Regions from separate parts of the Homo sapiens genome. Here all the other regions are linked to region 5. The links come from fine-mapping of genetic effects on gene expression. A gene starts in region 5. Each other region holds a variant in brackets. All regions are shown on one strand. Distances are between the middles of the regions.

What was found. PIP is the estimated chance that this variant, and not a neighbour inherited with it, causes the effect. A credible set is the group of variants that fine-mapping cannot tell apart.
Region 1: its variant is the best candidate, but not a certain one, in a credible set for the expression of TMEM97 in skeletal muscle (GTEx, PIP 0.58).
Region 2: its variant is the best candidate, but not a certain one, in a credible set for the expression of TMEM97 in sigmoid colon (GTEx, PIP 0.83).
Region 3: its variant is the best candidate, but not a certain one, in a credible set for the expression of TMEM97 in activated naive CD4 T cells (Schmiedel 2018, PIP 0.67).
Region 4: its variant is the best candidate, but not a certain one, in a credible set for the expression of TMEM97 in pancreas (GTEx, PIP 0.72).

The regions. Positions count from the first base shown.
Region 1 is chr17:28,287,993-28,293,097 of GRCh38, reverse strand. It overlaps the pseudogene KRT18P55. Among named protein-coding and RNA genes, the nearest start is that of TMEM97, 29 kb to the left of the region's middle. The variant G/A (reference allele first, on the strand shown) is at 2,699.
Region 2 is chr17:28,389,623-28,394,725 of GRCh38, reverse strand. All of the region lies in intron 7 of SARM1 (sterile alpha and TIR motif containing 1), which reads right to left. It overlaps SLC46A1 (solute carrier family 46 member 1), which reads left to right. Exons shown (of 5, transcript NM_080669.6): 5 at 1-84. Among named protein-coding and RNA genes, the nearest start is that of SLC46A1, 14 kb to the left of the region's middle. The variant A/TAA (reference allele first, on the strand shown) is at 2,446.
Region 3 is chr17:28,295,047-28,300,151 of GRCh38, reverse strand. It overlaps the pseudogene KRT18P55. Among named protein-coding and RNA genes, the nearest start is that of TMEM97, 22 kb to the left of the region's middle. The variant TAC/C (reference allele first, on the strand shown) is at 2,615.
Region 4 is chr17:28,229,123-28,234,227 of GRCh38, reverse strand. No RefSeq gene overlaps it. Among named protein-coding and RNA genes, the nearest start is that of TMEM97, 88 kb to the left of the region's middle. The variant T/G (reference allele first, on the strand shown) is at 2,832.
Region 5 is chr17:28,317,085-28,322,189 of GRCh38, reverse strand. TMEM97 (transmembrane protein 97) reads right to left here and starts at 2,990. Exons shown (of 3, transcript NM_014573.3): 1 at 2,825-2,990. The coding sequence starts at 2,950. RefSeq lists enhancers at 2,867-2,926, 3,407-3,666, 3,886-4,711.

The DNA.
Region 1 (5,105 bases), 29 kb after region 5:
TCCCAAGTAGCCAGGACTATAGGTGGCGTGCTAACACATCCGGCTAATTTTTGTATTTTTAGTAGAGATGGAGTTTCACTATGTTGGCCAGGCTGGTCCCGAACTCCTGACCTCGTGATCCGCCCATCTTGGCCTCCCAAAGTGCTGGGATTGCAGGCTTGAGCCACCGCACCCAGCCGCCTTCTTGGTATTTTATAGACTAGGCATTGCATGTAATTTCTGGGCTTATGCTTTTGTAAGCTCTTTGCATTGACTAGTTTATTGTCAACTTGCCTTTTTATTTGAGTTTAGGACTCTAACATATCTAACACGCAACCATCCACTAAAATTTTAAGCCTGGTCTCTTTGGGCTTTCTTTATCAAAGGCTTAAAAATTATCTTGACCCATGCAAGGCTTTTGCCAACAAAAGTTGCAGTCCTTGAGGCTCCAATGCCAATATCTTGTCACTGGATAGATGGGAGAATAGGGCGTGCAGACTCTGAAGTGAAGTTATCTGTGGCAGGATACAAATTGAACTTTGTAAACTGAGTTTATTTTTGTACTTCTATTTTCATATTCATGTTTTGTTCTCCCTTAGTATTTGCTAAAATATTTCAGAAGTTTTAAAAAAATTATCATATGTGGCAGATAAGTGATTGTTAGTATTAAAAAATAAAAGACCTGCAGAAAATATATGTTGACAAGATATCTGAAGGAAACAACACAAAGAAAGCACAACTGATGAGAAATATTATGAACAATTATTTATTGTAGAAGCAGAAGATGTGTTTAATTCAGAGTAAAGCAAGAGTGAATGATAGTTGTATTTTGTAGCAGTTGGACTAGATTCAGTTCTGGAAATTGTTTTATAACCTTTTGGCAGTTTTGAAATGAAATGTAGTTCAACATTTTTATTTTTCTGTGAAATACATTTAGTCAGTAGGTGTAGCCCAGTAGGTGTAGACTTACATTGTCTAAGAACTGTTTGATGATTTGGCTGAGTCTTTGGTCACAGACAAAAGTTTAGCCCCTGGGAAAAATAAGTGGGATCTGATATTATTTCATATCTCACCCTGTCTAGAAGTTTCGATCAGTACATTTAGACAACCAACAAATATTTACTGACCTAACACTACATTCTAGTTATACCAGCTGTAAATACTGTATGACAAGGAGAGAGTAGATAAGATGGTTCCTGACCTTCAGGTTTATTTTCCAGTCTCCCAAGCCTTATTTGTTTAAACTGCTGTAGACCTTTGAAGTTTCCTTAAAGCCAAGGATGTTTTCTACTTCTGTGTACTCCTTTCATGCTTAGAATTAAGTATGTGATTGGTCTGAATATTTAATTGAAAAATCGTTTCAACCTCCTTGTGAGTAGGAAGTCTCATTAATTTTTGCATAAAAGTACTTGGTGCAGGATATAAAAGCAGAGTGCTAATATTTGGAAATATGAGATCTGGGTTTGAGTTTGGCACTACCAATTCCTATAAGTAAAGGGACAAGGTACCACCACTGAATTATTTTCCTCAGCAATAAATGGAAATTAAAATCTCTACCCATCTTCTTAAAGAGTAGTTATGAAGACAAAGTAAGTGAACTCACATTATACAAACTGTAAAAGTGCCATATAAATGCTTATTATTAATACCTATTGTATAGTACATAGTTATTTTAACTGAATTAGAGATAATCCATCCTTAGGTCTTCCAAGTCTAACAACAGTACTAGTTAATATGCTTTGTATGTGATAGATGTTGGACTTCAGGATCTGTGCTTTTAATGTTATATGTGTTTTAGGACCCCTAAATTCCTAATTTTGGTGTTGGTTTCACTAATTCTGAGCTCACTAGTCATCTCTACTTCTGAGTCTAACTTCTAAAAAATCATCTAAAAAGAGCTTCAGTTACTCAGTAGTGGTGTTGGGACAACTGAATAACAACCCAGAATTTAAATAACTGGATCCCCATTGTCATTCCTTACCCCAGATAGATTCCAGATGAATAAAAGCTTTAAATGTAAAAAATGAAATCATAAAATTATTAGGATGAACAATGGTGGAATTATCTTAAAAATAATATTTGAATAAGAAAAACTTTTCTAAGCTTAACCCAAAACTTAGAAGCCATAAGACATGGACAAATATGCCTAGTATTCCATTATTGGAATGCTAAGCATCTGGGAGTTATTCGTGTCCTACTGTTCAAGGTCATTGCCAAGGTCTGATTGCAAAAATTTAAAAAATTGCAACCTCAGGCATAAATGGGTTAAGAAAAGTATAAGGCCAGTCACAGTGGCTCACACTTGTAATCCCAGGACTTTGGGAAGCCAAGGTGGTGGATCACTTGAGGCCATGAGTTCAAGGCCAGCTTGGGCAACAATAAGACCTCGTCTCTACAAAAAATTAAAAAAAAAACAGATTAGCCGGGTATGGTGGCATGCACCTGTATTCCTAGCTATTTGGAAGGCTGAGGTGAGAGGATCGCTTGACTCCAGGAGTTTGAAGTTGCAGTGAGCTATGATCCCGCCACTGTACTCCAGCCTGAGCAACACAGCAAGCCTGCCTCAAAAAAGGAAAGGATAAATTTGGTTATATTTCATCATAACAAAGTCAACAAACAAATAGACTGGGAAAAATATCTGTAATATCTCATTATAGGCAAAGAACAACTTTGCTTCAGGGATTTATCAGTTTAAGAAAGACCTAAATATAATAGAAAA[G/A]GGGAAATGGTATGAACACTGTGTACAGAAAGGCAATATAGATGGCCTTTACTTTTTATTATTTATTTTTTTGAGATGGAGTCTTGCGCTGTCGCCCAGGCTGGAGTGCAATGGTGCAATCTCGGCTCACTGCAACCTCCAGTTCTCAGGTTCAAGTGATTCTCCTGCCTCAGCCTTGTGAGTAGCTGGGATTACAGGAGAGAGCCACCACACCTGGCTAATTTTTTTGTATTTTTAGTAGAGACGGGGTTTCACCATGTTGGCCAAGCTGGTCTTGAACTCCTGACCTCAGGTGATCCACCCACCTTGGCCTCCCAAAGTACTGGGATTACAGGCGTGAGCCACCATGCCTGGCCACAGATGGCCTTCAAATATATGAAAATATTCTCAACCATTCTCATAGTAAGAGACGTGCATATTAAACTATGAAATGTTAGCTTGGTAAGATTATGGGAAAATAGGTACTTACACCATAGCCATGAGAATAGAAATTGGTGAAAGCCACTACAGAGAACAATTTAGATTACTTAAAAATTAAAATGGAGGTATTCTTGAATCCAGCAATTTTTTTTTTTTTTGAGACCATGTTGCTTTGTTGCCCAGACTGGAGTGCAGTAGCATAATCATAGCTCACTGCAGCCTTGATCTCCTGGGCTCTAGTGATCCTTCTGCCTTAGGCTCCTGAGTAGTGGGGACTACAGGTGCACACCACTATGCCTGGCTAATTTTTAAGAAACTTTTTATAGAGACAAGGTTTCACTATGTTGCCCAGGCTGGTCTCAAATTCGTGGGCTCACGCAATCCTCCCACCTTGGATTCCCACAGTGCTGGGATTACAGGTGTGATCCACCATGCCTGGGCTAGTCGTGCAATTTTTTTTTTTTTTTTTAGATGGAGTCTTGCTCTGTCGCCCAGGCTGGAGTACAATGGCGCGATCTTGGTTCACAGCAACCTCTGCCTCCCGGGTTCAAGCAATTCTCCTGCCTCAGCCTCCTGAGTAGCTGGGACTACAGGCACCCACCACCACGCCTGGCTAATGTTTATATTTTTAGTTGAGACGGGGTTTCACCATGTTGGTCAGGCTGGTCTTGAACTGCTGACCTCATGATCCGCCCGCCTCAGCCTCCCAAAGTGCTGTGATTACAGGCGTGAGCCACTGGCCTGGCCATATTCATGCAATTAACAAAATTTTTAGGATATAAAATTCTTAAGCATTTCTTCCTGGTTACTAAATAATTAATATAACACACAGTTGCTTCCTGTGTAATAACACGTACATTCCTTTTGTTGATATTGAAGCAGATTTTTCAAAGTTTTGTTAGTTTTATTTGGAATATATCTCCAGACATCTCACACATCTTTTAAAGAACATTGTATTATGTTTTGGGATTGAAATAAATAAATGTAAAAATTTTACTTTATAAAATCATTAGCTGAAAAAATGTGTTAAGAGAGATGAACATTCTCTACAGCTTGGGTAGTAAAACTGAGGCATTTTATTGTGAAATATTAAAATGGTGCATTCTGTGGGTATACAGGAGTGTGCCTGTAAATTTATGTTTGTATTTGCTTGATGATGAAGATAAAAATTTGTGTAACGATAGACTCTCTGAAGGGAAACTGAGTTGCATTTTCCTGTATTTAAAAAATTTGATATCGGCCGGGCGCGGTGGCTCACGCCTGTAATCCCAGCACTTTGGGAGGCCGAGGCGGGCGGATCACGAGGTCAGGAGATCGAGACCATCCCGGCTAAAACGGTGAAACCCCGTCTCTACTAAAAATACAAAAAATTAGCCGGGCGTAGTGGCGGGCGCCTGTAGTCCCAGCTACTTGGGAGGCTGAGGCAGGAGAATGGCGTGAACCCGGGAGGCGGAGCTTGCAGTGAGCCGAGATCCCGCCACTGCACTCCAGCCTGGGTGACAGAGCGAGACTCCGTCTCAAAAAAAAAAAAAAAAAAAAAAAAAAAAAAAATTTGATATCATGTACTTGTATTACTATTCAAAAAATATAATTGTTTTAGAAAAGACCTAGAGTGGGCAGAGTGAAAGCAGAGTAGGGTTGGGGCATTTCTTCGGTTTTGCTTATGTATACCTCCTTCCCAGTCTTGTTTCAGTTAGGAAATAAATGGTGACTACAGTAGAGTAAGGCCTGCATTAGGTAAGTCTCAACAATATTTAGTCTACATTTTATGACTAAATGAAAATTAGATTTTTTTTTCCACTAGAAATGAGGTCTTGCTATATTGCCCAGGCTCCTGGCCTCACACAATATTCCCACCTCAGCCTTGCAAAGTGCTAGGATTACAGGCAGAAAACTAGATTTGAATTCAATACAATAGAATAGAAACATGTAATGTTACAATTTAGGCCTTATGGTTAAATTAGAATGCTAATTAATATTGCACTAA
Region 2 (5,103 bases), 73 kb before region 5:
TCAAAGAAACTCTATACTTAGTCTTATTTTCTGAATCTCATTATTTAAGGTTGACATAATAAACAACTAATAGTAAGTAAAGTGCTTTCCTGAGTTCTGTGAGTCATTCTGGCAAATTGAATCTCGGGGTGTCATGGGCACCCCCGAATTTGTAGCCAAATCAAACAGAAATGTGGCAGCCTGGGGGCCTGGGCCTCGTGACTGACATTTCAGAATTGAATTGAATTGCGGGATACCCAGTTGGTGTTGGCAAGCTGGAGAATTAGTGGTTAGTGTGGGAAAAACCCCAAACAATTTGGTGTCAGAAGAAAAACATCACACTCCTGCGTACAGGTTGATCCATCATGCGCCCTGCCAATTGTACTCCTTACTTATTTCTCAAATCCACTATTTTTCCCTACCTCCACCCCACTACCACCCTCTTCCAATCCCCATTATCTTTAAGCCCCCACCAGGTCTTTCCTCATCCACGCTTGTCTTCTCTAATTCACTCTCCACATTGCCCTTTCATGTAGCTAATATTTGCAAAATGCACATCTGACAAATTAGGTCCTGTCACCCCCTACTTAAAATTCTTCAAGACTTTGCATGGTCTTAGAATAAAGTCCAAACTCCTTCATGTGGCCTGTGAGACCCTATGTGGTTGGCCACAGTCCACTTCTCAAACTCTACCCCTGCCCTGTCCTCCCAGACACACAAAATAAGCTTCCTTGTCCTTCCCCCTTGATAATGCCCATTCATTTTTCTGATCTGAGCTCAATCAACTCTTACACAGGGCAGTTGTCTCCCACTGCCCTGACCAAGTCAGTTCCCCTATTATAGGCTCTGCAGAACATATTATAGTTGCAAATTTTAATTAATTAATGGGTAAATTACTCAGTATTTGTCTTCTCTGCCAGACATGAGGAGGGATCATATCTATTTTTCACTGACCTTATATCTCAGCATCTTTCACAAAGCCCTTATAGTTAGCCCTTGCTAAATATTTAATAGATGGATGAATGAATGAATGAGAAAACATAGCACAGCAGTTAGGGCTGCACTCTGGAATCATCAAATCGGGGTTTGCACTGAGTCTCTGACACAGGCTCTACGACCTGAGGCAAAAATAATAGGTTCTCAAAGTCTCTGTTTTCTCTTTTCTTTCTTTCTTTTTTTTTTTTGGCGGGGGGCAGGGGAACAGGATCTCACTTTTTGCCCAGGCTGGAGGGCAGTGGCACCATCAAGGCTCACTGCAGCCTCAACCTCCTGGGCTCAAGCCATCCTCCCACCTCAGCCTCCCAAGTAGCTGGGACCACAGGCGTGTGCCACCATGTCCGGCTAATTTTTTGTATTTTTTAGTAGAGATGGGGTTTCACCATGTTGCCCAGGCTGGTCTCAAACTCCTGGCCTCAAGTGATCCTCCCACCTTAGCATCCCAAAGTGTTGGGATCACAGGCCTGCACTACCACACTCGTTCCTCTGTTTTCTAATATATAAAGCAGGATTAATGATAGTCCCTGTCTTCAGGATTGTTCCATGGAATAAGCGCAACATTCCATGGCAAGTAATTAGAACAGTGCTTTGCATGCAGTGTATGCTTAATACGTAATAGGTGTTATTATTTCCTCTTCTGTAAAGTGGGGATAATAAAACCTACCTCAAAGCGTTGTTCTGAGGAATTATTTGCTAGTAATCGGGTTCCATTAAGTGCTTATTGAATGTTTTTCTTCCTCTCAAGAGGGAACCAAAGGGATTTTACTTTTTTGAGTGCAGTTCACTTGTGGTTTTTCCCTATTGATTACCCACTAATGTGGCTTCAGGGAAAGGAGTTTTAAAACCAGAGGCAATTAAGCACCAGAAACAACCAAAGAGGGATGACGGAGCCTCTGGGGCCGGTCCAAGACAAAGGCTCCTCTCACCTCTTTGCCATCTGCTGGGACGACAAGGGGTGCCAAGCATTCTTGGGAAGTGGAGCCTTCCTGGGGAAAGAACATGCGTAACTTCGTCCTTGACTGGCTTCCTGGGGAGCCGCTCCATTTTACAGATGGAGAGAAAAAAGCCCAGAGAGGAAGGGATTTCCTCCTAAGCCACACACACGCCCAGCCCACGAGGGGCCGGTCCTCTGACTCAAGCCTCGAGAGTCCAAGTCCAGGCTGTTTCAGCCAAGCCCTGCTGCCTTTCTGCTGAGCATTGGAATGAATCCTGAGCCTGCAGCAATTTATTTGGAAATTTTTAGAAATTTGTTTCATCCAGAATTATACAAAACCAAAGACAGTACAAATTATTCATCGCACAGATTCAGAGGCTGGCCAAGAAAGGGATAATGGCGGCCGTGTGTGGTGGCTCATGTCTGTAATCCCAGCACTTTGGGAGGCCAAGGCGGGCGGATCACGAGGTCAGGAGATCGAGACCATCTTGGCCAAGATGGTGAAACCCCGTCTCTACTAAAAATATATATATATA[A/TAA]ATTAGCTGGATATGGTGGCGTGTGCCTGTAGTCCCAGCTACTCAGGAGGCTGAGGCAGGGGAATCACTTGAACCCGGGAGGCGGAGGTTGCAGTGAGCCGACCAAGATCTCACCACTGCACTCCAACCTGGTGATAGAGCAAGACTGTGCCTCAAAAAAAAAAAAATAATTAAATAAATAAAAGAAAGGGATAATGGTTTGTTCAGGATCACCTAGCTGGTTGAGAACGAAAACAATTAGAGTCAAGTCCTCTGGCTGGGCACGGTGGCTCATGCCTCTAATCCCAGAACTTTGGGGAGCCGAGGCAGGCACTGAACTCCAGGCTTGAGCTCAGGAGTTCGGGACCAGCCTGGGTGACATAGCGAAACCCTATCTCTACTGGAAAAAAAAAAAAAAAAACGGAGTCAAGTCCTCTAACCTGGTAAATCTACTAGATATGTATGGCTCTCCCAGGCATGGCATCTCAGCTTCATCAGTATCACTTGTCTGCTTAATCATTGATTCAATTGTTCTATAAACTCCTCTACAGCCTCAGCCTCTCTCTCTCTCTCTTTTTTTTTTTTTTTTTTTTTGGTGCAATTGCATAGAGCCTCCTTTGTACCATGCATGGTTTTAGGCACCAGGGACACAGATGAATGAGGCAAGGTCTGAAGTCTCATGGAGCTCACAGACACTCTTTTCTTTCTCTCAAAAGGCTGCCTGCCACGTGCTCTGGGTTATCAGCCATGTTCTTCCTGGATGCTCAACTGCCCCAGTGCCCCTCCCCAAACCAGGCCTAGTACTCAGCCCCTCCTACATGGCCTCTGGGGCTTGACTCCACACTCCATGTGGACTGCATTCCAGTGTCAGAGCCTTCATCCTAAGACCCACCGCCCTGGCATCTTCTCCTTCATGGGCTCCTTGATTTCCAGTGCTTTAAGCACAGGTCTTCTCCTGCCTTTAGACACTGCTTTACCTGGTTTCCATGGTTCTTATCCAGCCAGTGGTGTGCTGCTAACTTTATAGTAACTAGCTATTCATGGGGGAAGAAAACCCAACCAGCCAATCAACCAAACTAACAAAACTTTGATTTGTAGTGGTTGCCAATTTCCTTGGTGTAAATACTCCCACCATGGCTGATGACAAGCTACCAACATGACATCACTGGATGTGGAGTTGTGAAGAGATACAATCATCTCTGGTGTCAACCGAATCCAGCCCTACCCCATCACCTCCCCTCACACCCCCTCAGAGCTGTGCCATAGAATGCAGTGTGGATCTTGGGAAAGTGATGAGCTTTGGAGTCAGATAGATGGAATTTGAAGCCTAGCTTTTCTGATTTCTACACTAGTAGTGCAGCCAGGGGAACATTATTCTACTTTTCTGAGCCTCAGTTTCTTCATCTGTGATATGGAGAAAGCAGTACCAAGATGTATGTGGGCTTTCAGCACTGTTCTCCTCCCTACCTTTATTCCTTTGCTCATGCTGTTACCCTGGCCTGGGATGCCTTCTATTCCACTTACCCAGATTCTTAAGATTCTTCTCAAGACCTGCTTCCTCCATGAAGTCTTCCCTGATTATTCCAGTCCTTTGAGGACTAAACTCTGATTTTTTTTTTTTTTATCTTGCCCAAATTCCTACCTAAGGAGCCTAGGGAGTCATGCCCTACAAACCATAAAGTCTTATCGGAGGAGGTTTTAATTTTAACCCTATATAGCGTGGTCTGCTTTCTAACCTGACTCTAGCATAACATCACATAATAAGGGAGGAAATAAAAATATTTTAACCCCAAATATATTTCCCTGCCATATCTTGAAATTGCTCCACAAGTTTGTCTCTTGTGGGAAAAGGCCACATTCTATAGAGAATCCCCTTCCCCCCATTTTTTTCTTTTTCTTTCCGGACTCAGGAGATAATCAACAAAGAGCCAGGCACCCTTATAAGTCTGATAAGAAACATTTTATAACCTACTCCCTCTGAAGTCTGCCCTGAGAACTTCCTCTGCACAATAAAACTTGGTCTCCACAACCCTTTATCTTAACCTAAACATTCCCTTTCTATTGATCCCAGGTCTTCAGATAAACTCAATTAATTATCAACTGGAAAAATTTAAAATTTACCTATAGCCTGGAAGCCCCTGCTTTGAGCTGTCCTGCCTTTCTGAACCAAACCAATGTACATCTTAAATGTATTGATTGATGTCTCGTGTCTCCCAAAAATGTATAAAACCAAACTGTGCCCTGATCACCTTGGGCACGTGTTCTCAGGGTCTCCTGAGGGCTGTGTCACAGGCCATGGTCGCTCATAGAGTCTGACTCTTTTCGTTGACACCTTGATGCTCTCTCCCTTCTCCAAACCCCTGTGGCAAGCAAGATGTTTGCTTACCTGGCTCAGCATTTACACCAACTTGTATGCGATCTAGTCATTTTGAGACAGGGTCCCACTCTGTTGCCCAAGCTGGAGTGCAGTGGTGTGATCTCCGTCTTCTGGGCCCAAGCGATTCCCCTGCCTCAGTCTCCTGAGTAGCTGGGATTACAGGTGTGCGCCACCATGCCTGGCTAATTTTTGTATTTTTTTAGTAGAGACAAGGTTTCACCATGTTGCCCAGGCTGGTCTCGAACTCCTGACCTCAAGTGATCCTCCTGCCTCAGCCTCCCAAAGTGCTGGGATTACGGGTG
Region 3 (5,105 bases), 22 kb after region 5:
CTCCTGCCTCAGCCTCCTGAGTAGCTGGGACTACAGGCGCCTGCCACCGCGCCTGGCTAATTTTTTGTATTTTTAGTAGAGATGGGTTTTCACCGTGTTAGTCAGGATGGTCTCGATTTCCTGGCCTCGTGATCTGCCTGCCTCGGCCTCCCAAAGTGCTGGGATTACAGGCGTCAGCCACCGCGCCCGGCCCACTTTGTGTTACATTTAACTGTTCTTTTGACAGCCCAGTTTTGAAAGCCAGGTTTGTATGGAAATGCTCTCACTCCACTTGGACTGCTTTCGGAAATAGTGTACTGCTTCATTTGCATGTTTATTTTAGTGCATTCATAATATAACACAGTCAGCATAATGTCTCATCTCCACTTAGCCAAAGATTGAGTTTCCTTTAAAAAAAAATAATGACAACAACAAAATGGGAGGGAGGAACAATTTTTGTCAGCATTGTTTAATACCTAAATCTTGGTGCCAAATATAGTTACAACATGAGTCTATTAAGAGATTAAACAAGGCCGGGCAGGTGGCTCACACCTGTAATACCAGCACTTTGGGAGGCCGAGGCAGGCGGATCAGTTGAGGTCAGGAGTTCGAGACCAGCCTGGCCAACTTGGTGAAATGTCTTCTCTACTAAAAATACAAAAATTAGCTGGGCATAGTGGTGGGCGCCTGTAATCCCAGCTACTCAGGAGGCTGAGGCACAAGAGTCCCTTGAACCCAGGAGGTGGAGGTTGCAGTGAGTTACTGCACTCCAGCCTAGGCGATAGAGTGAGACTCAGTCTCAAAAAAAAAAAAAAAGAGAGAGAGAGAGAGATTAAACAATAATCAACCATATACTCTTAGAGTCATTCTGCTATCCTTGCCCTTTCTAGAATTATTCAGTTGTAGGAATTATGATATGAAATAAGGATTTTCTGCACAGGTAAGTTTGTTTTCATAGTAGTAAAATAAGGGCCTGTTTACCTTTGTTTTCTGCAAACATTACTTATATTGAGACTTTTAATCTTTTTTTTTTGGGGGGTAAGAAAGTTATAAATAGATGCTGAGCACTGGGTAAGGGAATGCTTTTCCTGGCAGTTCATTTGGGAGGGGAGAAGGGAAGAAGCCTCAGCAGCAGTAGTGTTATATTAAGTTTTCGTGATGTATAGTAATGTGGAAGTCAGCACTTGGCATCAGTAGTGTTTCTAATTCTTTCAGTTCATATGTAGCAAAAATAACTTGCAGCAAACTTTTGTGTACCATAATGATACCATATATATATATATATGTATGTATATTTAAAACAATATATGTTTTGTTTTAGAAACAATTTTTCATTATAGTTTGCCTCCAGTTTTTGTTTTTTAAGAAGTATCCGGGGCTAATGCCTGTAATCCCAGGACTTTGGGAGGCTGAGGAGGGAGGATCACTTGAGCTCAGGAGTTCTAGATCATCCTGGGCAACATAATGAAACCTTGTCTCTACAAAAATGTAAAAAGTAGCCAGCCAAGGCCATGTGTGCCTGTAATTCCAGCTACTCGTGAGGCTGAGGTGGGAGGATTGCTTGAGCCCGGAAGGTCAAGGCTGCAGTTAGCTGTAATTGTACCACTGTACACCAGCCTGGGCAAGAGAGCAATAACCTGTATCAAAAAAAAAAAAAAAAGTGTCCTGATTTTCCCCCATCAAAGAAATAATCAGCTGCTTAGCCCAGTTTTGTAGGTTGTATGCTATTATAAATTTAAGAAGGAAATTGTCCTTTAAAAACAAAACACAACTGAGCATTTGGAAGGCTTAATTTTCTTCTGACTTCTAGTTAGAGAAGATAACAGTAGAACAATGTTTTTCTTTCCTCAATGACTCCAAAGAACATTTTATCATTGAATATGGAGATGTAAGACAAACAATTTAATGTGCAATATTTGGTTTTAATGCAGAAATTTGTGGTTTAGTCAGCTTTATAAATTGATTTCAGGAAATATGAGATTATTTTCAAATGGTTTACCTTTGTTTTCTGGTAACATTACTTATATTGAGACTTTTAATCTTTTCTAGATTAATACTATAAATTACATTTTAATACATATAGAATACCTTGTGTTTAGAATTTTTCAATCTTTTCCTTTGAATGTATAGCACCATTTTTTCTGATACGGTTAGTGCTTATTTTAGCCTTGTCTTCGTACTTCACAATAACTGTAAAAAGCAAACAACTGGACAAAGAGCTGCAGATGTTTCTGATAGCTTGACCCCTTAAACAAAAGCTGACATTTAATCATTGTTTTTAGCATTTTTTTTCATGTAGTTTACATTGGAATACCTTTTCCAGTGTGCTCCTGGGAAGATGAGACATTATGTATGTTGGTTTCTCCCCACTACGTGCACTAATGGTTCTTTTTATTTATTTATTTATTTATTTTTTGAGAGGGAGTCTCGCTTTGTCGCCCAGGCTGGAGTGCAGTGGCGACATCTTGCCTCACTGCAACCTCTGCCCCCTGGGGCCAAGCAATTCTCCTGCCTCAGCCTCCTAAGTAGCTGGGATTATATACATATATATTTTATATATGTGTGTGTGTATATATATGTGTGTGTGTATATATATGTATGTGTGTGTATATATATATATGTATATATATATATA[TAC/C]ACACACTTTTCTAAAACCAATCAAGTCTAGCCTGGATTTTGCTCTGATTGTTTTTTTCATTTCTAGTGGTGGGACAGTCTTACATTTACAACTTACTTTGTATCATGAAAGCCTGACACATAAAACAACTAAACACAATGTATATTATCTTTAAAAAAGAATCTTAAAGTGGTGCTGTTTAGGTGGTAGATATGACTGTATACGTACTTTGATTTTATGTTTTTTTTGAGACGGAGTCTTGCTCTGTCCCCAAACTGGAGTGCAATGGCACGATCTCGGCTCACTGCAACCTCCGCCTCTGGGGTTCCAGCAATTCTTGTGCCTCAGCCTCCTGAGTAGCTAGGATTACAGGCACCTGCCATCATGCTCGGTTAATTTTTGTATTTTTGTAGAGACAGAGTTTCACCATGTTGGTCAGGCTGGTCTTGAACTCCTGACCTCAGGTGATCTGCCCACCTCGGCCTCCCAAGGTGCTGAGATTATAGGGTGAGCCACCGCGTCTGGCCTATTTTATGCTTTTTAATGTTACTTTAAAACTTCATAAATGTATTCTTCCCCTTTTCCCTTTCCCCTTTTTCTCCATTTTAAAATGTTATGTACGAAAGTTGCCCAGCACACCATCAGAAAGGACCTTTATCCTATATGTTCTTCCCATATAAAATACTAGCCAGCTTTTCTTTTTACATTAGTGTCCCTCTTATTGGACACATTTACGCTATTATTAGCACCTTTTTGCATGCATATATGTAGAATTATCGCTTGCTCATCATCTGTTTAAGTGTCACTAGGCAGGGAAGAATATACTATTGGAATATTTTTGGTTTGTCTCTATGTTTTGTCTGTCAGGATAATATTGGACACTGCTTACTCCAGAAACATGGGTGGAAGCTGGGCCAGGGATTGAGAAAATCTCTTCAGGATAAGTCTTTACATTTACCAAAGAAAAAGAAAGAAAACTGTTTCTGATGCAGATCTTGTACCTGAATATATTTGTTGTCTTTCTAAAAAGGTGCTTGGGTTTTTCTGCCTCCCTGCCTTTCTACCCTTAGATTAGTCTATTTTTCCTATAACTGTATTTTAAGTCACTGTTAAATTTGCCAGTAATTTGCAAGAGTAAGCTGCTGTGTCATCGAAACTTTCAAGTCAAATATACTGTGTGTGGCTCAACCTGTTTTTAATTTTTTTTTTTTTTTTGGTGGAGGTGATGGGTGGGTGGAGTGAAAGGAATGCAGAATATCAGAGTATGCTTTATTTGTGCTATTTAGTAATGTATTGTGGCTTCAGTATTATAAAGAGAATCATCCAGTAGCAGAGTTTAATTTTTATCCTTTTAAATTCTCCCTGAAGCTGGTGATTGCCCTGGCTCTTTTGCTCTGCAATAAGAGATCTGTGTAGTGGTAGAAAGAAAAATTAACCCCCATGAAACATAAAATGAAAGCAGGGGTTTCTGAGGGCTCTCTAAGCAGAGAGGTTATTTCTCAGGTTCCTATCAAGGTCTGGAAAATGTATGGCTCAAAGTTTCCATTGCATTTGTTACCCTGTTTAACTATACCAGTCATTTGGATTATTTCAGCTTCTGAGTTCTTGCTAGTTGGAAACCAAGCAGCTGCATTCACTTTTTAGCTCTCTCGGATTCAAGAGCTACTGTTTGTTCTTTGCAGATGTGATGTGAATGCTGCCTCAGAAATTATGGGAATCATTGTGCCTGTACATCTGGTCATGGGGGAGCTTATTGTATAAGAGCATCTTTGGGGAGAAGTGTGCTACTGTTGACGAATTCTTTGAATTTTGTAAATTGATTTTGACAGTTTGAATGCTGAAGTCTGATCAATTCAAGTGTGTTGAGAGGAACAAGGACAGGTGTAGTGGCTCATGCCTGTAATCCCAGCAATTTGGGAGGCTGAGGCAGGAGGACTGTTTGAGGCCAGGTGTTCAAGACCAGCCTGGGTGACATAGCAAGACCCCATCTCTATTTTTTTAAAAAAGAAAAAATTAATTAATTAATTAAAGAGAGAGAGAGAAACCAAGAGGATAGGACTTGAAATATAGGACATTTCAGTTATTAAAACCTTTACTTTTTAAATTCTACTTCTGCAAATTCAGTGGTGACAAATGGGAGATGCTCAATAAATATATTTTGATGGAATATTCATCACTAAGCATTAACCTATTCTTTTGGGGAGTTCGAAAGGTGCGATTACCTTTAAACTTGTTTTCCAGTGGCACAAGAATTCTTTGCAAACACTACAAAGAATACTCTGATTAAGAGCAATTTGTATGGTATAGGCCACAGATTGGTTTTTGTTTGTTTGTTTGTTTGTTTGTAGATGGAGTCTCACTCTGTTGCCCAGGCTGGAGTGCAATGGCGCAATCTCAGCTCACTGCAACCTCTGCCTCCCAGTTCAAACAGTTCTCCTGCCTCGGCCTCCTGAGTAGCTGGGATTACAGGCGCATGCCACCACGCCTGGCTAATTTTTGTATTTTTAGT
Region 4 (5,105 bases), 88 kb after region 5:
GTGATGGAGGAAGGATGGATTCGGTTACCAGATGGGAGAGAAGCTGTGCCACAGCTGCTAGGAGCCGCAGTTGTGCTGGCTGTGCATAAAACCACCCATCTAGGCCAGGAGTCACTTGAAAAGTTGTTAGTCCGGTATTTCTACATCTTGCATTTGTCAGCCCTTGCCAAAACGGTGACGCAGCGGTGTGTTACCTGCCCAAAGCATAATGCGAAGCAAGGTCCAGCTGTTCCGCCCGTCATACAAGCTTATGGAGCAGCCCCCTTTGAAGATGTCCAGGTGGACTTCACAGAGATGCCAAAGTGTGGAGGTAACAAGTATTTACTAGTTCTTGTGTGTACCTACTCTGGTGGGTGGAGGCTTATCCAGCACAAACTGAGAAAGCTCGTGAAGTAACCTGTGTGCTTCTTCGAGATCCTATTCCTAGATTTGGACTGCCCTTACGGATCGGCTCAGATAATGGGCCAGCATTTGTGGCTGACTTGGTACAGAAGAGGGCAAAGGTATTGGGGAACACATGGAAACTGCATGCTGCCTACCGGCCTCAGAGTTCCAGAAAGGTGGAGTCGATGAATTGGACTATCAAAAATAGCTTAGGGAAAGTATGTCAGGAAACAGGATTAAAATGGATACAGGCTCTCCCTATGGTATTATTTAAAATTAGATGTACCCCTTCTAAAAGAACAGGATATTCCCCTTATGAAATATTGTATCATAGGCCCCCTCCCATATTGCAGGGACTTCCAGGCACTCCCCGAGAGTTAGGTGAAATTGAGTTACAGCGACAACTACAGGCTTTAGGAAAAATTACACAAACAATCTCAGCCTGGGTAAATGAGAGATGCCCTGTTAGCTTATTCTCCCCAGTTCACCCTTTCTCCCCAGGTAATCGAGTGTGGATCAAGGACTGGAACGTAACTTCTTTGTGCCCACGGTGGAAAGACCGTAGTCTGTCGTCCTGACCACTCCCACCGCTGTGAAGGTAGAGGGAATCCCAGCCTGGATCCACCACAGCCGTGTAAAACCTGCAGCACCTGAAACCTGGGAGGCAAGACCAAGCCCAGACGACCCTTGCAGAGTGACCCTGAGGAAGACGACAAGCCCTGCTCCAGTCACACCCAGAAGCTGACTGGTCCACGCACGGCCGAAGCATGAGGAAGCTCATCGTGGGATTCATTTTTCTTAAATTCTGGACTTACACAGTAAGGGCTTCAACTGACCTTACTCAAACTGGGGACTGTTCCCAGTGTATTCATCAGGTCACTGAGGTAGGACAGCAAATTAAAACAATCTTTCTGTTCTATAGTTATTATGAATATATGGGAATGTTAAAAGAAACTTGTTTGTATAATGCCACTCAGTACAAGGTATGTAGCCTGGGAAATGACCCACCTGATGTGTGTTATAACCCATCTGAGCCCCCTGCAACCACCATTTTTGAAACAAGATTAAGAACTAGCCTTTTCCTAGGTGACACAAGTAAAATAATAACTAGAACAGAAGAAAAAGGAATCCCCAAACAAATAATTTTAAGATTTGATGCTTGTGCAGCCATTAATAGTAACAAACTAGGAACAGAATGTGGTTCTCTTAACTGGGAAAGGAGCTACAGAGTAGAAAATAAATATGTTTGTCATGAGTCAGGGGATTGTGAAAATTGTGCCTTTTGGCCATGTGTTATTTGGGCTACTTGGAAAAAGAACAAAAAAGACCCGGTTCATCTTCAGAAGGGGGAAGCCAACCCTTCCTGTGCTGCCGGTCACTGTAACCCACTAGAACTAATAATTACCAATCCCCTAGATCCCCATTAGAAAAAGGGAGAACGTGTAACCCTGGGGATCGATGGGACGGGGTTAAACCCCCAAGTTGCCATTTTAATTAGAGGGGAGGTCCACAAGCGCTCTCCCAAGCCAGTATTTCAAACCTTTTATGAGGAGCTGAATCTGCCAGCACCAGAACTTCCGAAAAAGACAAAAAATTTGTTTATCCAATCAGCAGAAAATGTAGCTCATTCCCTTAATGTTACTTCTTGTTATGTATGCGGGGGAACCACTATCGGAGACCGATGGCCTTGGGAAGCCCGAGAGTTGGTGCCTACTGATCCAGCTCCTGATGTAATTCCAGTTCAGAAGGCCCAAGCTAGCAACTTCTGGGTCCTAAAAACCTCAATTATTGGACAATACTGTATAGCTAGAGAAGGGAAAGTCTTTATCATCCCTGTAAGAAAGCTTAATTGTATAGGACAGAAGTTGTACAACAGCACAACAAAGACAATTACTTGGTGGGGCCTAAACCACACTGAAAAGAACCCATTTAGTAAATTTTCTAAATTAAAAACTGCCTGGGCTCATCCAGAATCTCATCAGGACTGGGCAGCTCCCGCTGGACTATACTGGATATGTGGGCACGGAGCCTACATTCGGTTACCTAATAAATGGGCAGGCAGTTGTGTTATTGGCACTATTAAGCCGTCCTTTTTCTTATTACCCATAAAAACGGGTGAGCTCCTAGGTTTCCCTGTCTATGCCTCCCAAGAGAGGCATAGTTATAGGAAACTGGAAAGATAATGAGTGGCCCCCTGAAAGGATCATACAGTATTATGGGCCTGCCGCATGGGCACAAGACAGCTCATGGGGATACTGAATCCCCATCTACATGCTCAATCAGATCATATGGTTGCAGGCCATCTTAGAAATAATTACTAATGAAACTTTGACTGTTTTAGCTTGGCAGGAAACCCAAATGAGGAATGCTATCTCTCAGAATAGGCTGGCCTTGGACTACTTGCTAGCAGCTGAAGGAGGAGTTTGTGAAAAATTTAACTTAACCAG[T/G]TGCTGCCTACAAATAGATGATCAAGGACAGGTGGTTGAAAACATAGTCAGGGACATGACAAAGGTGGCACATGTGTCTGTACAGGTTTGGCACGAGTTTGATCCTGAGTCTTTCTTTGGAAAATGGTTTCCAGCTACAGGAGGATTAAAAACCCTCATTGTAGGTGTAGTGCTAGTAATAGGAACTTGCTTGCTGCTCCCCTGTGTATTACCCTTGCTTTTTCAAATGATAAAATGTTTTGTTGCTACTTTGGTTCATCAAAAAACTTCAGCACACGTGTATTATATGAATCACTATCGCTCTATCTCGCAAAGAGACTCAGAAAGTGAGGATGAGAGTGAGAACTCCCACTAAAAAGTGAAAATTCTCAAAGGGGGGGAATATGGTACGAGACCACCACTTCTCCTGTTGTCCTTCCCAGTTTCTCCCCAACCTCCCCTTTTCCCTAGTTTATAAGACAGGAGAAAAGGGAGAAAGCAAAAAGTTGGAAAGAAACAGAAGAAAGATAAATAGCTAGACGACCTTGGCGCCACCACCTGGCCCTGGTGGTTAAAATGATAATAATATTAACCCCTGACCAAAACTACTGGTGTTATCTGTAAATTCCAGACATTGTGTGAGAAAGCACTGTAAAACTTTTTGTAGTGTTAGCTGATGTAGGTAGCCCACAGTCACATTCCTCACACTTACTTGATCTATTATGACTCTTTCACGTAGACCCCTTAGAGTTGTAAGCCCTTCAAAGGGCTAGGAATTTCTTTTTCGGGGAGCTCGGCTCTTAAGATGCGAGTCTGCTGATGCTCCCGGCCGAATAAAAAACCTCTTCCTTCTTTAATCCGGTGTCTCAGGAGTTTTGTCTGCGACTCGTCCTGCTACAGCAGCCCTAGCAAACTAAATAGCAATGCCATCTTCATCCAATTCTCTGGAAATAAGCGGGAAGCCAGCTACAATGTAAGTCCAACTACCCCAAGAATATCGTGCTGGAGAGCCCATTTGTAGGTACGACAGTCAACAGCCCCGGCTGAACTCAACAGCCGGCACCAGCATGGGAGTGAGACTCCTCAGGCATCAGCCCGGTGGATCATTTAGATAACTGCAGATCTGCCAGCCTCTGATGGTATCCGCATGTGAGACTCAAAGCGAGAACTGCTGAGGTGAGCGCTTCCTGGTCCTGACCCACAACATCATGAGTGACATACAATGGTTGTTTGAGGCTGCCAAGTTTTAGGGTAACTTATTATACAACATAGTAACCAGAGCACCTACCCTCTCCCTTCCCCCACTTGCCACTGGCTGGAACACAGATGAGGTCATGGCAGGCTGTCTTCAGTCCTGTCAATGACATAGATGAGGGCATGGGGAAGCCACAAATGAGGAGCCTGGGCTTTTGGATGCCCTCGTGGAGCAGAGAGGCCAGCTCCCCAGATGTCACTTGCATTTCAGGTAAGAGAAATAAATTTCCTTTCTGTTTAAGTCACTGTTAATTCTATCTGTTTTTTTAAGCCAAATCAATATCCTAGTAATATCATATATGTAAAACGAACAGCTCAGAGTCTAGCACATAAATAAGTGCTTTTTGGAAAAGGTAATTATTGCTATTATATTAATTATTATACTAATAATAGTTATTAATAATATTATTACCCTAAACTGCTCAACACTCTTCAAAATGAACATGAGGTGGACCCATGTCACTGATGGTCAATGAGACATGACAAGCTGGGCAAAAATTGTCTGTGGTCATGCCTAATTCATACCAGGTCTCTCTTCCATCCACCTTAAACTGACTACAGCTCTCCCAGGCAGACCAATAGATAAGGGATCACAGACACCAGCGCACAGACACATCCTCCCACTCCCCACCCACACAGTGAGCTGAAGCTCCGGGTAGCCACTGTATGCTCCCATCCCACCTGTCCTATCGCAGGAGAGAAGACAGGCAGCAAAATGGGATGGAAAGTGGGTCTAAGATAATGAGTGGGGAGAGGGAGCCAGAGAAACTAACTCCATCCCCAGGAAATCAGGCAAGGCTTCCGGGAGGAGGTGACCACTATCCTGAGAGTATCTTCCAGGCTGAAGAGAGGGAAAGGGCTCTCTGCAAGCAGGGACAGTGGCCTGGGCAAAGGCACAGAGCATCAGAATCCACATAGCCAGTGACCTACAGCTGCCTCTTCAGCTTCACCCTTTCAGCTCTACCTCCAGGGAGGCTGGAGGGCAGCACAGGGGAGGGTGGGTGTCAGAGCCCTGTGGCCCCCTGGGGACCTGTGTCCAAG
Region 5 (5,105 bases):
TGCAATCCAAGAAAAAAAATTTATTGTGCATGTTTCAGCCCAACCACTAGGTGATCTCCTACAGGTTTTTTAACTCTAGGGAAACATTCCTTCTATTTCAGGAAGAAAATGACAGATGTTAAATTTTGGCATTTTTCAAAGAGAATATGAGAATAACTCAAGGCGTTTATTATTATTTGCCCCATAGAGAAGCAACAAAATCAGCATTTCCTACACCAAAGCAACAAGAATGGAGGCACAGACCTTCCATGCCAGGATGCCACCGAGCTAATGCCTTCAAACATCATCACACACACAGATACACACACACCCAGGATGCCCGTGCTAATGCCTAAATCTCACACAAACACACACACACACACACACACACACACACACACACACACACAGGTTCTGGCCAGATGCTGCCTGCACTGGCCCTTGGGCCTTCTGCAGTAAGTCAGCATTAAAAAAATAAAGCTGACGCTGGGCACGGTGGGTCACACCTGTAATCTCAGCACTTTGGGAGCCCGAGGCAGGAGGATGGCTTGAGCCCAGAAGACCAGCCTGGGTAACACAGTAAGACATCATCTCTACAAAAAATAAAAAATTAGCCAGGTGTGGTGGTGTGCACCTATAGTCCTAGCTACTCAGGAGACAGGTGGGAGGATCTCTTGTGCTCAGGTTCAAGGCTGTGGTAAGCCATGACTGCATCACAGCACGCCAAGCCTGGGTGACAAAGGACCCTGTTTCTAAAAAAAAGACTGAGAAAATTTTATCAAATGTAAACATTTAAATGGGATCTTTATGATATGATGCTGAGCACCTTTTAAGTGTATTTTGTTAGGGGTGAGCAAGACGGGCTTGTGAGAATGGCACATCCAGGAAGGATAAAGAAGACAACAGCTGTGAAGTCTGGAATGGCTACATGGAGTAGCAGGCTAATTACCAAGTATTAAAAGGTCCTATAACACCAGAGATTGTAAACAGGCAGCCTGTCTGAGTATTGCTGGCCACACAGGTTTCAAAAACCACAGATAGGCCAACACTGTAGTAGATTTTCCTTTCTTCAGGGCAATTAATGGTTACTGCAGAGCTGCGATGACCTCTTCGGTCTTTGGGAAGAGTCTGTACTCTCTGGCCCTGTAGTAGGCTGAATAATGGCCCCCAAAGATAACCACATCCTAATCCCTGGAACCTGTGACTATTACTTTATTTGGCAAAAGGGACTTTGCAGATGTAATTAAGGATTTTGAAATGGGAGATTTTCTGGGTTATCTGGTGGGCCCTGAATGTATGACAAGTGTCTTTATAAAAGCGAAGCAGAGGGAACTCTGACTACAGAAAGGGAGGCAATGTGATGACCCGAAGCAGAGATTGAAGTGACGTGAACACAAGCCAAGGAACATTGGCAGCCACCAGAAAATGGAAGAGGCAAGAACCAGATTCTCCCCTGGAGCCCTCAGAAGGAGTGAGCCCTGCCTTGATTTGAGCACTGTAAGATTTCATTGTGAACTTCTGGCCTCCAGAACTGTAAACAAATAAATCTGTTAAATCACTACATTTGTGGTAACTACAACAGCAATATGAAAACTAACCCACCCTGTATATGTTTGAGCTTATAATTTAACTCAACTCTCTCAACAGTTGAGGAGGATATAGAGCCCTGACCTGCCCAAGTCACCTCCAGTTCTTGGAAGAACCAAGTCCCCAGACTGCAACTTGCTACACGCTACCTACGCTTTTCCCATGCAAAAGGAGGTCAGAGGTCTTCCAGTTGTGTTTGGTTCTAGAAGCAAACAAAAAAGAGTGACTTATGGGAGTGGTAGAACATTCTTGAGCCGTGGCCTTTTTGGGAGAGTTAGGCCCCTTGAAAAGTCGATGGAAGCTATATTCTCCTTGCAGGAAACAAAAGGCACACACACTTGCACCCATTTTTGGGAGTTCATGACCCTCAGGTAAAGAACCCCTCCTCGGCAGATAAAAAGCATTTAAGGAAAAACAGACGCAAAATAAAATCTTCGGGTAGACAAGTCAGTCCTGCCTACAGTTATAGATAAGATGGAGAAACAAAACTGAGGACAGGAATTCCATGGAAGAAGGTCACAGGGTCCAGATACGAGAAAAAAACCTCAACGAACCGGGAAACTAAAACTATAGCTTTGAAGAAAAAAACAAAGCATTAAAGCAGAGTTTGGGGTTGAAAGAATGCTCTCCAACAACCAGGAAATCGGGATTTTCACCTTTATTTTTACTCAGGAGATCATTGTTACTCGAACCCAATATTGAAGAGCCAATCTGAAAAGATGGCAATTTACTCCTGAGCTCTGGAAGTTGCTGGAACCTGATCTCGAAGCAGTGACGATCTGTGAACGCCCCAGCTGCACCAACCAAGGTGCTAAACCTTCAGACAGGTCTATTTCTACTCGGATTTTTTCTTTGGGATCAGACTGGTATTTTAAAGCCCTTCCAAACAAACAAACAAAAAACCAGAAGCTTAAAGCAAACCTAACATGTGACTTTGGACACCACTTCATCCAGACTACTTCCCTCAGACACTGACAACCGGCCAGAGGTGGAATCGCGGGAAACCTTAAACCCAGGGAAGAAGTGACTTTAAAGGAAACAAAGCGTTCGCCCCCGCCGCTTGGGAGAAGGGGCTGGGATAGAGACAAAGCCCGAGGAAAACACCGAACTAAAGTTGGGTTAGGAGCGGGGGAGGCATGGGCAGGACCCGAGAGAGGCAACTGGAACCCAGAGTGCGCGAGCGCGGAGGAGGTGAAGGCCCTGTGGACGCAGCGCCGGGAGAGCCTCAGCGGGCCGGGATAAGAGGGGCGCCCCTCACCTCGACTGGGTAGAGCTCGCGCGGCAGCACCGCCTGCAGGTCCATGAACAGGGTGATGGGGATGTGGCTGAGGAAGTAGAGGCCCAGCAGCCACTCCACGCAGCGCCTGGTTGCCGGAGCCCCCATAGTCTGTCGGTTGGGCCTGGACCCGCTGATGTGAGAAGAGGGGCCAAATCCGCGCGCCTTCCCAGACCCACGCGCCTCGGTCGCCGCCTTGCCCCCGCGAGGGCTAGGCAGACCGCTTCCATTGGCTGGCGAGAAGAGGAGGCTCGTGGACAGGGGGCGGCACTCCCCACAGGGCGCACCCATTGGTCCGTATAAGTATAGCGCGTGGAGAAGGCGTCTCGTAAGCCATTTCCATTGGCCGCCAGGAGCGCCGTGTGGGCGGGGCTTAGTCACGCCGTTCGGCGCGCGGCTACTCAGTGTAGATTGCGGTTGTGAGCGCGAGCCTAGCGTTTCGGTGCTGGCCGCGTGGTATCCTGGTGTCCCGGCAGCTGCCGGCGGCGCTCCCTTCCCTCGTGGCTCCGTTCGCCACTACAACAGCAGTATGAAAACTGCACTGGCCCTTGGGCCTTCTGCAGTAAGTCAGCATTAAAAAAATAAAGCTGACGCTGTGCACGGTGGGTCATGCCTGTAATGTCTGCACTTTGGGAGCCCGAGGCAGGAGGATGGCTTGAGCCCAGAAGACCAGCCTGGGTAACTTAGTAAGACATTATCTCTACAAAAAATAAAAAATTAGCCAGGTGTGGTGGTGTGCACCTGTAGTCCTAGCTAGTTCGTGTACTAGTGACCAGCGCCTGTGCTGGGCCGCGGTACCCCGGTGCAGTGCGGCCGTCACGGAGCAGGGGTCGCAGAGCGGGGCACGAGCGCCGCGGTGCAGGTTCCCGGCCCAGCCGGGGTTGCGGGTCTGGGGAGGCAGCTGGCCGCGGTGAACAAAGAAGCAGAGGGGAGGACTCGAGGGACGTAGGAGGCAGTAAAATGGACAGGAATCCTCACCGGCTGTGGAGCATGAGGGAAGGTCAAGGATTCGTTTACACGTTCAGCAAATACTGATGTTCATCTCCACGCTGGGCGCAGGCCTGTCTCGGGGCAGGATCGCCGAGGCTGCCATTTGCTAAGAGGGGACACAGGGCAAGGGAGTGCGAGGAAGGAATGCAGCTTGGACTACGTGGACCTTGAGTGGGCTGCAGCGTTGGGTGGAGGAGGCAGTTGGGTGAGCCTGTCTGGAGTCGTAAGCTTGTGAGGCATCCGCCTTTGATGGCGAGCAGAGGGCCTGGGAGAGATCCTGGGGGAGCTCCAGCCTCAGGTCATGGGAGGAGGGGACTGAGATAGGAGCGTACTAGCAGGGGGCTATGTCACAGGGAGGGGCAGCCTGTCAACACTGAGTGATGCCCGCCTGTGGCCCTGTGGGGAACAGTTGTGTCGTGGGGGCAGGAGCCAGGGAGTAAGAAAGTGGGGAAATGGAGGCAGGAAGTGTAGACAGCTGGTCACGAAGGGGAGAAGACATGGGGCAGTAGCTGGAGAGAGATGCACTCGAGAGTTTATTTTGCAGGTGAGAAAGACTTGAGCTAGTTTAGTTTTGACAGTGGGAGAGGTTACCCCTACTCGAGAAGAGCAGGAAATGCGGCTCAAAGCCCTGGAGGAGGCGGAGGGAATGGAAGGATTGGGGTGGGTTAGGTGGGTGCACTGCGCTCCGCCCAGCTTCCCCTTCCCTTGGGGCGCTGTGGGCTAGGACAGAGGGATTATGGCAGTGTTGAAGGCCCAGCTGAGGTGGGGGGCCGCTGACCCGGAGGCCCCAATCTCTTAGGCTGTGTGCTTTGCATTTCTCTAGTGCGGGGTCTACCCAGAAGAAGGCTGTTGGACCCCTACAGAGTTTGGGTTCAGAAAAGCGAAAGGTGGCTTTGAAGAGCTGAAGAAGAGTGATTGAGGTGCAGAAGGTTGCAGTTCAAGCTAGGTAGGGGGAGAGGGAGAGGTGAGGCCAAAGGGGGCTGTAAGACAGGGAGACAGTGGAGGCCTGCTGAGGAACACGTGCCAGCGTGATGGGAGTCACTGGGCCGGAAGGGTGGGAGCTTATGAGGAGGGCGTGCAATACCTGAATTCCTGGGGTCAGGAAGAGGTTCTGCCCGTGGGAGTGTGCGGCTGAAATGGAGTGGAGGGGAAGGTCTTTGGAGATGAGGTCAAGGGAAGGCCACCCAGGGTGGTGGTGGCGAAAATGCCACTGCACACGGGGGAGTAACCAGAAGGAAGGTGAGCATGGGATGAGAGTGGAGGGGAAACTGTG